Linked DNA regions of Homo sapiens. The protein of the gene in region 3 purifies or fractionates together with the protein of the main gene of each other region. This does not show direct contact. Each region holds a gene or a part of one and is shown on either strand. Other genes may lie near its edges. The genes, in order: MCRIP1, YBX1 and DDX6.

The links.
Region 1: the proteins of DDX6 (region 3) and MCRIP1 purify together in Homo sapiens (affinity purification with mass spectrometry; 3 studies listed by BioGRID and IntAct, with this or other methods). This does not show direct contact.
Region 2: the proteins of DDX6 (region 3) and YBX1 purify together in Homo sapiens (co-immunoprecipitation; 4 studies listed by BioGRID and IntAct, with this or other methods). This does not show direct contact.

What each region holds. Positions count from the first base shown.
Region 1 is NC_000017.11:81,823,292-81,826,943, forward strand, and holds part of MCRIP1 (mapk-regulated corepressor-interacting protein 1), read right to left. Parts: intron 3,225-3,652; exon of another isoform or gene 3,104-3,224; coding exon of another isoform or gene 3,089-3,103; intron 1,264-3,088; coding exon of another isoform or gene 1,216-1,263; coding exon 1,208-1,215; intron 1,115-1,207; coding exon 996-1,114; intron 223-995; coding exon 121-222; intron 21-120; coding exon 1-20. UniProt on the Homo sapiens protein: The phosphorylation status of MCRIP1 functions as a molecular switch to regulate epithelial-mesenchymal transition. Unphosphorylated MCRIP1 binds to and inhibits the transcriptional corepressor CTBP(s).
Region 2 is NC_000001.11:42,685,269-42,688,920, reverse strand, and holds part of YBX1 (Y-box-binding protein 1), read right to left. Parts: intron 1-3,652. UniProt on the Homo sapiens protein: DNA- and RNA-binding protein involved in various processes, such as translational repression, RNA stabilization, mRNA splicing, DNA repair and transcription regulation.
Region 3 is NC_000011.10:118,747,244-118,750,346, forward strand, and holds the end of DDX6 (probable ATP-dependent RNA helicase DDX6), read right to left. Parts: 3' UTR 520-3,103; downstream 1-519.

The DNA.
Region 1 (3,652 bases), on a different chromosome or scaffold from region 3:
CAGGTCGATGGGCTTGAAGGCTGCCAGGGGACAACGCGGTAGGTGGTGGGCACAGGCCCCTCCTGCCCATGAGGCCCGGCCTGCCGGCCCAGCCCTGCCCCCAGGTCAGCCCCCACTCACTCTTCAGGCTGGGGTTAGGGACCTTCTCCACATACTCCTCCACCAGGCCCCGCTCGCCACCCGGCACCTGGCCTCGCAGGTCTCGCTCCACACCCTGCCAGGCTGCAGAGGCAGAGAGTGGTGTGCTCAGGGCCCCCTGCCCCAGGGGGTGGCATCCACGTCACGAGAGTGCCTGCCCTCAGCTCCTGCCCTCCCAGATCCTCTTCTCCCTCAGAAGTGTCCTCCATGCTCCCCCACAGCCCTCTGCCCACCCCAGCCTCACTCACCTGCAGACCCCGTCCCCGCTCCTCTGGCAGGCCTGTCCCTTCCCCGCAAGATGACCAGGACTGTGGTCAGAGGGACCCCTATGACCCTACCCCAGGCTTCCCTGCGCCTCGGAGGCAGCGCATCCTCCTCAGCTAGGCCTCTATCTTTCCCACCTCATCCACGCACCTCCCCGGCCCCAGCACACGGCACACTCCCCTAATCCCAGACAACCACCTCCCGGCCACTTCTGCAACACGCCCGTTCATGGCTGGATGCGTGCCTGTCTGTCTTCAAAGGCCCCTCCCTTTCCCCAGCAAACTCCTCCAGTGCTGCTAGCATGGATGACTGGCTCCCAGTGCGGCCTCTATCTGTGGCATGGCCCACCCCCAGCCCCTCCTCCCGGGCTCCCCCCATGATCAGAACCAGGTCTCCTCTCTACACAAGGTCCCCTCGGCCACCCCTACCCGCCTGGGCCCTGAAGGCTGTGGACACAGTGATGGGGCTATCTGTGCCCTGGAGGGGCAGGGGCAGGGGCCGCAGGAGGTTCCTCGGAGCGTGGGTCCTGGGCTGGGGGCAGAGCTGACTCCGTCAAGGACAGGGCAGGAGCTGTGTGTGGCAGGCGCACCCACCTTCGTAAATGAAGCGGACGTTCTCCTCGTGGGCTGGGGTGAAGATCTCGCTGCTGCTGGGTGGGGAGCGGGGGCTGCTGGTCCTCTTGCCGTTGTACACGACTCTGGAGACGGGGGAGCTGGGGGAGCCTGGCGCATGAGACAGGGCACACAGCAGGGTGGGAGCCCACAACCCGCCCCGGTGGAGACCAGCCCACCTGCCTGAGACCCACCTGGTCATCGCGGGGGCGTCTGATCCTAGCGCTCCACCGCCAGATCCCCTCAGCCTCTGAAACAGAAGCCAGCGCAGGCATGGGACGCAGGGCCACCCTCTCCAGCACAGAAGGAGGGGGAGGCGCAGGGCACACCTGCCTCCTCCCTTCAGATGTGAACAAAGTGCATGGTCCCTCTGCCTACCAGGGTGTCCCCCACAGGCTGGGGTCCAGCCACAGGCAGCCAGTGGGCTCCAGGCAACCCTACGAGGTAGCAGAGAGCTGGCCAGACGAGCCAGACACACACACAACTTGAAGCGATCAAGCCCGCTCAGCGGCCTTGATCCTCCACGTCTCAGGCTCAGACGTGGAGGCCTCAGCCCCAGCACCGGGAGCACTGTGGCCAGAGCCCCTCCCCACGTGGGCTGGTGGGGCCGTCAGCATCTCTGATGTCCAGCTGCCTCTCACTGCAGCAGAGGGCCTGCAGCCCCTCAGCTAACTGACCCTGCTCTCCCTGGTGCAGGGCTGGGCACACGGCTTCTGCTGAGCCTTGATTTCCTTTCTGTAAAACGGGGATGAGCTTCCTAAAGGTGATCCCAGCTCCCCGGCACCTACCCAGGTCCAGCTTCCTGGTTCCCTAGAGCATGAGCCACATCAGTACCCTGGAGATGGAACCAAACTCCAGCTCCCCTGGTGGGCAGAGGGGGTGGCCCTGGAGGAAGCTGCTGGGCCTGACCTGGTGACCAAGACCCTGGGCTGCCGCCCGTTTATGGCCTCCCAGCCCAGGGGAATCCACGGCTCTGGAAAAATGGAGTCTATTTTGAGGCTCAGACGCTCACACTGGCAGGCTGGACAGTGTCCCCACTCCAGCTGAGGACACACAACCCCAAGGTGGGGAAGCTGACAGGGCTGGTCTCCAGCCTGCCCTGCTCCAGAGGGGGCAACTCCAGGTTCTGGGGGAGGGGAGTCCCAGGATTCCCAGGAGGGGGCTTTGAGCACAAGCAACTCCCCTGCCCACCCAGAGGCCCAAGGCTGCAGATACTCCAGGGCACACGGCTGCAGCCCTCACAGAGGGCCAGGAGCACTGAGGCTTCGAGTCCTCTCTGGCTCATTCCGCCTCATGTCAATGGTCCAGCCCTCAAACACCACGTGATAAGAATCCCACGGCTCAAGGGCAAAACCAGCAAAGAGCAGAAAACCAGCTCCCAGCCCTGGAACTCTGTGCCCCATCCCAGGCCAGGAGTGAGGTCCAAAAAGGGCCAGGGGCTCCCCACCCACGGCAGCACCCAGTTTGCTCACAAAGTCACCTCTCCTTTCTTGGACTCTGGGGTCTCTCTGCCCAGTCCTCCTGCCAGGGACTCCAGCCCACGAACACCAGAGCACGGAGGGAAAGGCCTGTTTGGGTTGAGGGTCCCACAGGGACATGCTGCCTGCTGGGAAGCTCCCGTTACAGAGAAAGGCAGAGCTCAGGTAACAGGTAGACTGGCCAGCCCCCTGCCTCGCCCCCTGCTGGCTCTCACCACTGACCGACTGCTGCTTTAGGGGTACCTGCCTCCCAGCCTGCCCTCTCCCGTGGCTCTTCTCCCCATGCATCCTCTGCCTCCAGTGGCCACTTGGCCTTTATGCAGCCACACCTTTGGCCTGGGATCCCCCTGCTGGGTTCGGTTGTCACTCCTGCCCCAGATCCCACTGATTGCCCCACATCCTCCCAAGCAACTACCCTTCCGGGGCTCCCTTTGCCTTGTGTGCACACACACACACACACACACACCTGCCCACACATACCTACCTGCACACACCTTAGCTGAATACATCTGCCACACACATGCATACAACCGCCCGCACACACCTGTCTGTACACACCTGCCCACACACATGCGGCACACACCCATATGAACACACCTGGTGTGGCAGCATGCACTTGTAGTCCCAGCTACTCAGAGGCTGGGGTGGGAGGACTGCTTGAGCCCAGGAGGTCAAGGCTGCAGGGAGCCAAGATCGTGGCACTGCACTCCAGCCCAGGCAACAGAGCAAGACCCTGTGTCAAAAAAAAAAAAAAAGCCCAGGCACGGTGGCTCACGCTTGTAATCCCAACACTTTGGGAGGCAGAGGCGGGTGGATCAGCTGAGGTCAGGAGTTTGAGAGCAGCCTGGCGAACATGGTGAAACCCTGTCTCTACTAAAAATACAAAATTAGTTGGGCGTGGTGGCAGGCACCCGTAATCCCAGCTACTCGGGAGGCTGAAACAGGAGAATCGCTTGAACCCGGGAGGTGGAGGTGCAGTGAGCCAAGATCGCGCCAACGCACTCCAGCCTGGGCGACAGAGCAAGACTCCATCTCAAAAAAAAAAAAAAAAAAAAGGCCAGGCGTGGTGGCTCACGCCTGTAATCCCAGCACTTTGGGAGGCCGAGGCGGGTGGATCACAAGGTCAGGAGTTCAAGACCAGCCTGGCCAATATGGTGAAAC
Region 2 (3,652 bases), on a different chromosome or scaffold from region 3:
TATGTATTATATACTGTATTCTTGCAATAAAGCTACAGAAAAGAAAATGCTAAGAAAGTTGTAAGAGAAAATACATGTACAGTACTGCACTTATCGATACGGTAAGTGTACATCTGTCTGAAAGGTAATTCCAGCTGTAGACCTCATCTATAGCACATATCGAGCAACTGAACTTTTTCTTACAATGCCATGACTTTTCTCAGCATCACTAGCGCCACTTTGCATGGGTCCCATGGTGCTATTGAAGACTTACAGTATTGCACTAAACCACAATACCTGTGTACTACAAGTTCTTTTTACTGACATGCAATTTACTGGAGAGATAAACTGTTCATGTGAAGATGATTAGCGTCACATGGCATTTTAAGGGGCTCACTGCAGTAGCAATAGGCAGTGGCTACATATTATAATAGTACAATATTACTACAGTGAATGTCGTGCAGTTATGATTTAATGCTGCCTGAATCTTTATGTTTGTTTACATTTCTCAACTGCAAATGGCTGTATTAACTTTCTAATGCATTTGTGTACATTTTATGGTAGTAAATAATAAAACAGACTAGTATCTACAACATACTCAACTTTTCCTTATTTTGGGGGATACTTCTTGGCTATGTGGTTCATCTGAAGTTTTCAGGTTGTTGCAAATCTCCAAACATTTTTCCAATATATTTATCAAAAAAAATCTGTGTGTAAGTGGACTTGTGTGGTTCAAACTCACATTGTTCACGAGTCAAACTGGATACTAGTTCTCTATCCTAGATTTCAAGAGTAAAGGATTGTACTTTGGGAGGACACAGGGAGTGGGACCTACTAGTATTCTCCAAGTCACGTATCAGTGACTTGGTGAACACGGATGACTTCTTGCCAGCTTAAGATCAATGGTTAATATAACCAGCATACAAATCTCTCCTAATGTCTCCTGCATACATGTCATTGATGTTTGTCTTTAGGGTTCCAGTTTGGAACCTTCGACATCTCTCCCTTAGCAGCACCTGCAGAAAAGTCTTTAAACCTTCCCTAGTGCCAAAACATTTTGTCAGTTATGTTACGGTCTACCCATGACTTATGTGGCTTAGCAATGGATCTACTGTGATCAAGTTAAGATCAGTGTGACTTTAACAGCCCAAGAGATTTTTGGTAATGACATCCTTCCAAAGGTTTACACTTCTATTAAGAACCACACATTTGGGAGGCTGAAGCTGGAAGATCACTTGAGCCCAGGAGTGCAAGACCCATATGGGCAACACAGAGAGACTCCACTTCAAACAACCAACAACCACACAGTAAGTACTTTACACCGCCACCTTTAAAAAAGAAAAAAAAATCACCCTTTAGAGGCCGGGCGCAGTGGCTCACACCTGTAATCCCAGCACTTTGGGAGGCCTAGGCGGGTGGATCACCTGAGGTCAGGAGCTTGAGACCAGCCTGGCCAACATGGAGAAACCCTGTTTCCACTAAAAATACAAAATTAGCCTGTGTGGTGGCGGGCGCCTGTAATCCCAGCTACTCGGGAGGCTGAGGCAGGAGAATCGCTTGAACCTGGGAGGCGGAGTTGCAGTGAGCCAAGATCGTGCCATTGCACTCCAGCCTGGGTGACAAGAGTGAAACTCCATCTCAAGAAAAATCACCCTTTAAAAAGGCAATATTCAGTCTTACCTTGCAGGCCATACAAAAAAAAAAGATTAAGGGAGATAAGGTGCAACATTCTCTCCTTTAATTCTTCACCTCCCAGTATCAGGAATTAAGCAAGTCCTTTTATTTGTATAGCTGACCTACATGCTAAACTAGAACTTTTAACAATCCCAAACTTCACAAAGTAGATAGTGAAAGGCAGAAAACTTTTCAAATCCAGGACCTAGCAAGTCAGCAGACAAGAGCCCCAGTGACATACTTGGATCATTTAAGAGTCTTTCAACGGCTAAAAATAATCACCCTAAGAAATTATCTGTAACTATGTGGACAACAACCAAATTGAAAATGGCTAGGGTCTATTTCAGAGACAGCATAAGAGCAGTTGGTGAACACTAACTCCAGAGTCAAAAAACAGTTCCAATCCTGCCACTTATCACCTATGCTTATGGGGACAAGTAACAACTCCTTTGTGCCTCAGAATGACAGTACCTACGCCTCAAAGGTTTTTAAAGATTAAGTAAATTGGCTCATTTTAAGCACTTACTATAGACCCTAGTATAAATACTTGTTAGCTGTATCTATTTTCACCAACATGTGTTGGAAGTCACCTATCAGTTATGTACATATGGAATCCCCACAAGGGAGCCCCCACCCCAAAGGGAGACTAAACCTGATAGGCGTGACTAAAGAGAGATAGCCAAACCTTTCCCTGGCTTGGTTTATTACATCTTCCTAGACCATGGGTAATAAACTCAAATGCATACACAGAGGCCAGGCGTGAAGGCTGTCGTAAAAAAAGTATACCCCACCTAAATGTGGTGACAATATGGCCAGGTGGTTTTTACTTATGTGGAAATACAGGCCCCCAAAGCCAGCTAAAGTTCAGATCTTAAAAATATAATAATCTGGATTACTTGGTGTTATCTCCTGAATTATAAATGTTAGTAATTAATCCCAATTCCTTTAAAAAATACTGTACTGTCTAATCAAAGCATCTGGGAGTAGTTTTAGCCAGAAGGTCACAAATTTGTGACCTCTGCTCCAAATTCTTTCACCTCAAAACATTAAGAATTATTAATTTAAACATTTTAAGTACTCTGGAAACAGAAAAATATTCCTATTCTGGTCACTATAAACTGTTGCCAATTCATGGTAATCTTTGGTGAATATGGATCAATACTCAACCACTAACAAAATTCAACAGTAATCTGGGGGGAGCTAATAAACCCCTCTAGTCACATTCTCCGATTATGTTTTGTAGACACAGTTCACAAAAGAATAACTCAATGAATTTCTTAGAATTTCTAGATTACACAGTCTAACAAAATAAAGCCAAAACTTCTGCTATTTTTAAAAGCTCTATGCTCATGTTACTTAGCACCTTCTTCACAATATAACCATCAGGGAGAAGCCCTTTCATGAATTAATTCTAACAAGGTTGTAACAATTCATCAGGTGGTAATTCAGGCTGGAATAAACACATTTACAATGAAATTATGTCTTTAAAGGCAGAAAATTTACATACAATATTGTAATTATAAAAATTCCTTACAATCCTAGCATATATAATCCAGCGCATCCAAAAACCCCAATTAAAAGTCGTCACAATAGTCATCCCGAACACTGCACCCTCTCCTTTATACAGAAAACAGCACGTTATGTGTCAGTCTGTCTCCCTCCCTCATAAGAGACAGGTGCCTCCAGCCAAGTCTATTTGTTCCACTACACGAACTACATATAGAACCAACTGCTAGCTTCCAAAGTGATTTCTTTTATCACATACATTTTCCTTAATTAAAGCAAATCTTCCCTGTATTTAATTGGAGTCAGATTTTACAGCATCTTATTAAAAAAGTCCCAGAATCATTAAAACCAGTTCAGAAGCATAAAGAACATTTTAACCAGTTAATTTGACAAAATAATTGAGGTTAGGATAGTCCAAACAAAGGACCATCAAAAGCCAATTCATAACTTGCCCTGGAGGATGACCAATTGAGTTGATTCCAATTCAGAATAG
Region 3 (3,103 bases):
ATGTGCAGACGTAAAACCCAGATACAGGGGACTGACTCTATTTTCTTAGTTATACTTAAGCATTTCTTTGGGTAGAGAGGTAGTGAGAGTGATGTGCTCAACTTTAAGTGTCTGCTTTTCCCAACTTTTATTTCCCAATCTTTTATTTCATCAGTGGTTTGTAGTTCTCAGCATATGAATTCCATTCATACTGTTAAGATGTAGTATGCCTTGGTTTTGGGGGTATGTTCAGCTTTACATTTGAGAACAATTGTAGGAGGTGGTAATTACTGATGTATTTGGACATATTATGGACCACATCTCCCCTCTTCCCAACCGATTATCTTGGTTCTCCATTTAGGCTGTGAAATCTGACAGCATGGTGGAACAGTATCTACAACAGATGAAGGGGCTCTGAATTCAACTGGGCTTCACAGGAATGATGGGTTGAGAAATGTCTGTTTCACAGTATGAATTACCTGAGCAAAATGCTCAGATTCCTATGCACACAGCTGCTACTAAGGACATACCACACACACATTTGGAGTTCCAGTGGGCTTTTATTGAGATAAATTAACAAAAACCAAGATTTTACCATATTTTTGGAACCTTATAAACTCAGCAGACTCCGGTCCATATATGCGTACATACAACATAACACATCCCAACAAAAACAGAGCCCCCCCCCCCCCCACTGGAACATCTGCCAATTAAGAGAAAGCCAATTTTCCCTTCCCCCAATGTTTCTGAAATTTTGAGTTCCCACTGTTCACTTCTCAGTGGAACTGGTCCCTTGTGGCTAGGGACATTGGAATTCTCTACCATTTTTACTGAACAAAAAATAATTTTTTTTCCTGTTTCAAAAAAGGGAATAGTGACTTTGTTTTCTCCAGGCTCCCCTTCCCACACAACCAATGTAAAATACAGCAGCCTGTATCTTAATAACCCAGCCCTACCCCCTCCCTTACCCAGCATTGTCTACTGGAGAATTTAAATACACTTCTGTTGGAATCTGTCAGCTGTGGATGGGCAGAGTCCAGGTGCCAGGCTAGCTCCCTCTGACCTCATGAACTGTGACAACCTTTGGACACTTAACTCTTTACCCCAAAGATGAGTTTTTAGATCAGAAAGGAGAGCAGATTTTCTTTGGGAGTTTTAAAAAACTATCTTTAGATTTAGAGATACAAAGTACAACTACAATCTCACAGAAGTCCACTAAAGTTCACCAAAAAGCTGACTTACTTCAGCTCTCATGAGGCCAATAATTTTGATAAAGGTATCTGGCAGGAAAATGATTCCACAATAACAAATTTAAAGATACCTAGAACATTGAAAAAAATAGCAAATTAAAATAAATGGCTTAATTTCCAAGAACTTATTTCATTTTTTTGTTACTCATCTAGAAGGTCAGGAGTGTGGCTAAAGGCAGTTTCTGATGAGGTTATGAGCTTCCAAAGTGTTTCTAAATCCTTAGTGCAGACACCCTCCCTTCTGGGGCAAAGTACCCTCCCTCCCACCCCTATTAAAAAAAAAAATTAAAAAATTAAACCACGTCATCAGAATGAGATGTTTTGATTCCAACAATTTATACTCAAGGCTTTGTGCTGAGTTGTCGTTTGAACCAAGCATGATGTTATCAAGCACAAAGCACGTGGCAAAGGAAAGATGCTCCCATCTCATTCTGAAAACAAATACTGATAACCAAGCCCACCCTCCAACCCTTTGGGGCCAACCCATTTTATGCTGCTGGGACCAACTTCAAACAATTTAGAGGTATATTTAGGTTTCCCTCTCTCTTACTTCTGTGAAAGATCATTTTAGAATAAATGTATTCCATTCCTATGGGAGAGGCAAAACAGTATTTATCCCCATCAGAATATATGGGGAAAGAAAAAACATAGGCCTAGAGGTGGTAAGGTGTGTAACAGTCCATAGCCCATTACACAACTGTACAACCAAAGGCTAAATGATGAGTTGGATGTAGTTTTAATATTAAAAATAGAGGGTAGTTCTCATCCAAATGAGCCACTGGAAAATATTATCATTACTTAAAAAAATACATATTTAATATTGGAAAGAATGTGAAAACAACTTCCAATAGTAACAATGCTTATTATGAGGGCCCAAAAAAGAAAGAAAAAAAAAAAAAAAAAAAAAAAGACCAGGCTTTGACCTAGTCCTCAGAGCATCTTTCCATTTAACAATTCCTATTCAAGAGTCAAGCACCAAAACTGGACAGCTGCCTCTACAAGACCGTGTCCAGTAGTGGTGTCCCAGATAGTTTAAGTGCCACTCCTCATTAGAGGCTATACTTCAGTAATACTTTCCATTTTAAGTCTGTGCTTTAAGAGGGACCCACAGGCATGTGGCACCACGCAGTCTAAAGTTGGTGAAGGAGACTGCACTTTTTGTTTAGTCACCCACACGTTCTCTAGCGAGATACAGAATTGCATTTATACTCTTTTCTTCTACATGAATGATCCCTCTTATCTCGCAAGAGGTGGGGGAGAAAGAGAGCTGCATCGGTACAAGGGCACAATTTTTTTGGTCAAAAGTTGACACCTTTTAAATTCCCTCTCCCACCCCTCCCTGGAAAAAAGTTACTTCCTTAATTAGGTTTTCTATTTAGTAACCAACATTGACTGGACAGAAAATATGAGGCTTGGGTTCCAAATAGATGAGCTTGTTCTTTTTTGGGTTTGTACCGTGCAGTTCTTGCTACAGTTGTTAAGGAGTTAGGGCTATGTCCCATCAGGAGGCATCTGTAGGATTTTGATCTCCAAGGAATTGTGGGTGAGTCGCAAATAGTTTGCTCAGAAGTAGGCAGAGTCAAAAAAGCAACTTCAAGTAATTGATTCCTTTGTCCAAAAGAGTTAAAACATTAAAGTATATGCGGGACTTATTTTGTAATATTTTAGGGTTTTGAAAAATAAAATATGGAAATCAATTTTTTTTAATTTTGTTTTTTGCTTTTTTCCCCCCCTTTCCAGATGCCTCCTGATTGACCTAGTACACTGGGTTAAAAGGGAATTAAAAACATTAAAAAAAAAAGTTCACTGGTTTTGATTCATCTCACTCCTTTTGCCTGGAGATCAGGCCAAACATCAAGCATGTTGGGAGGGGC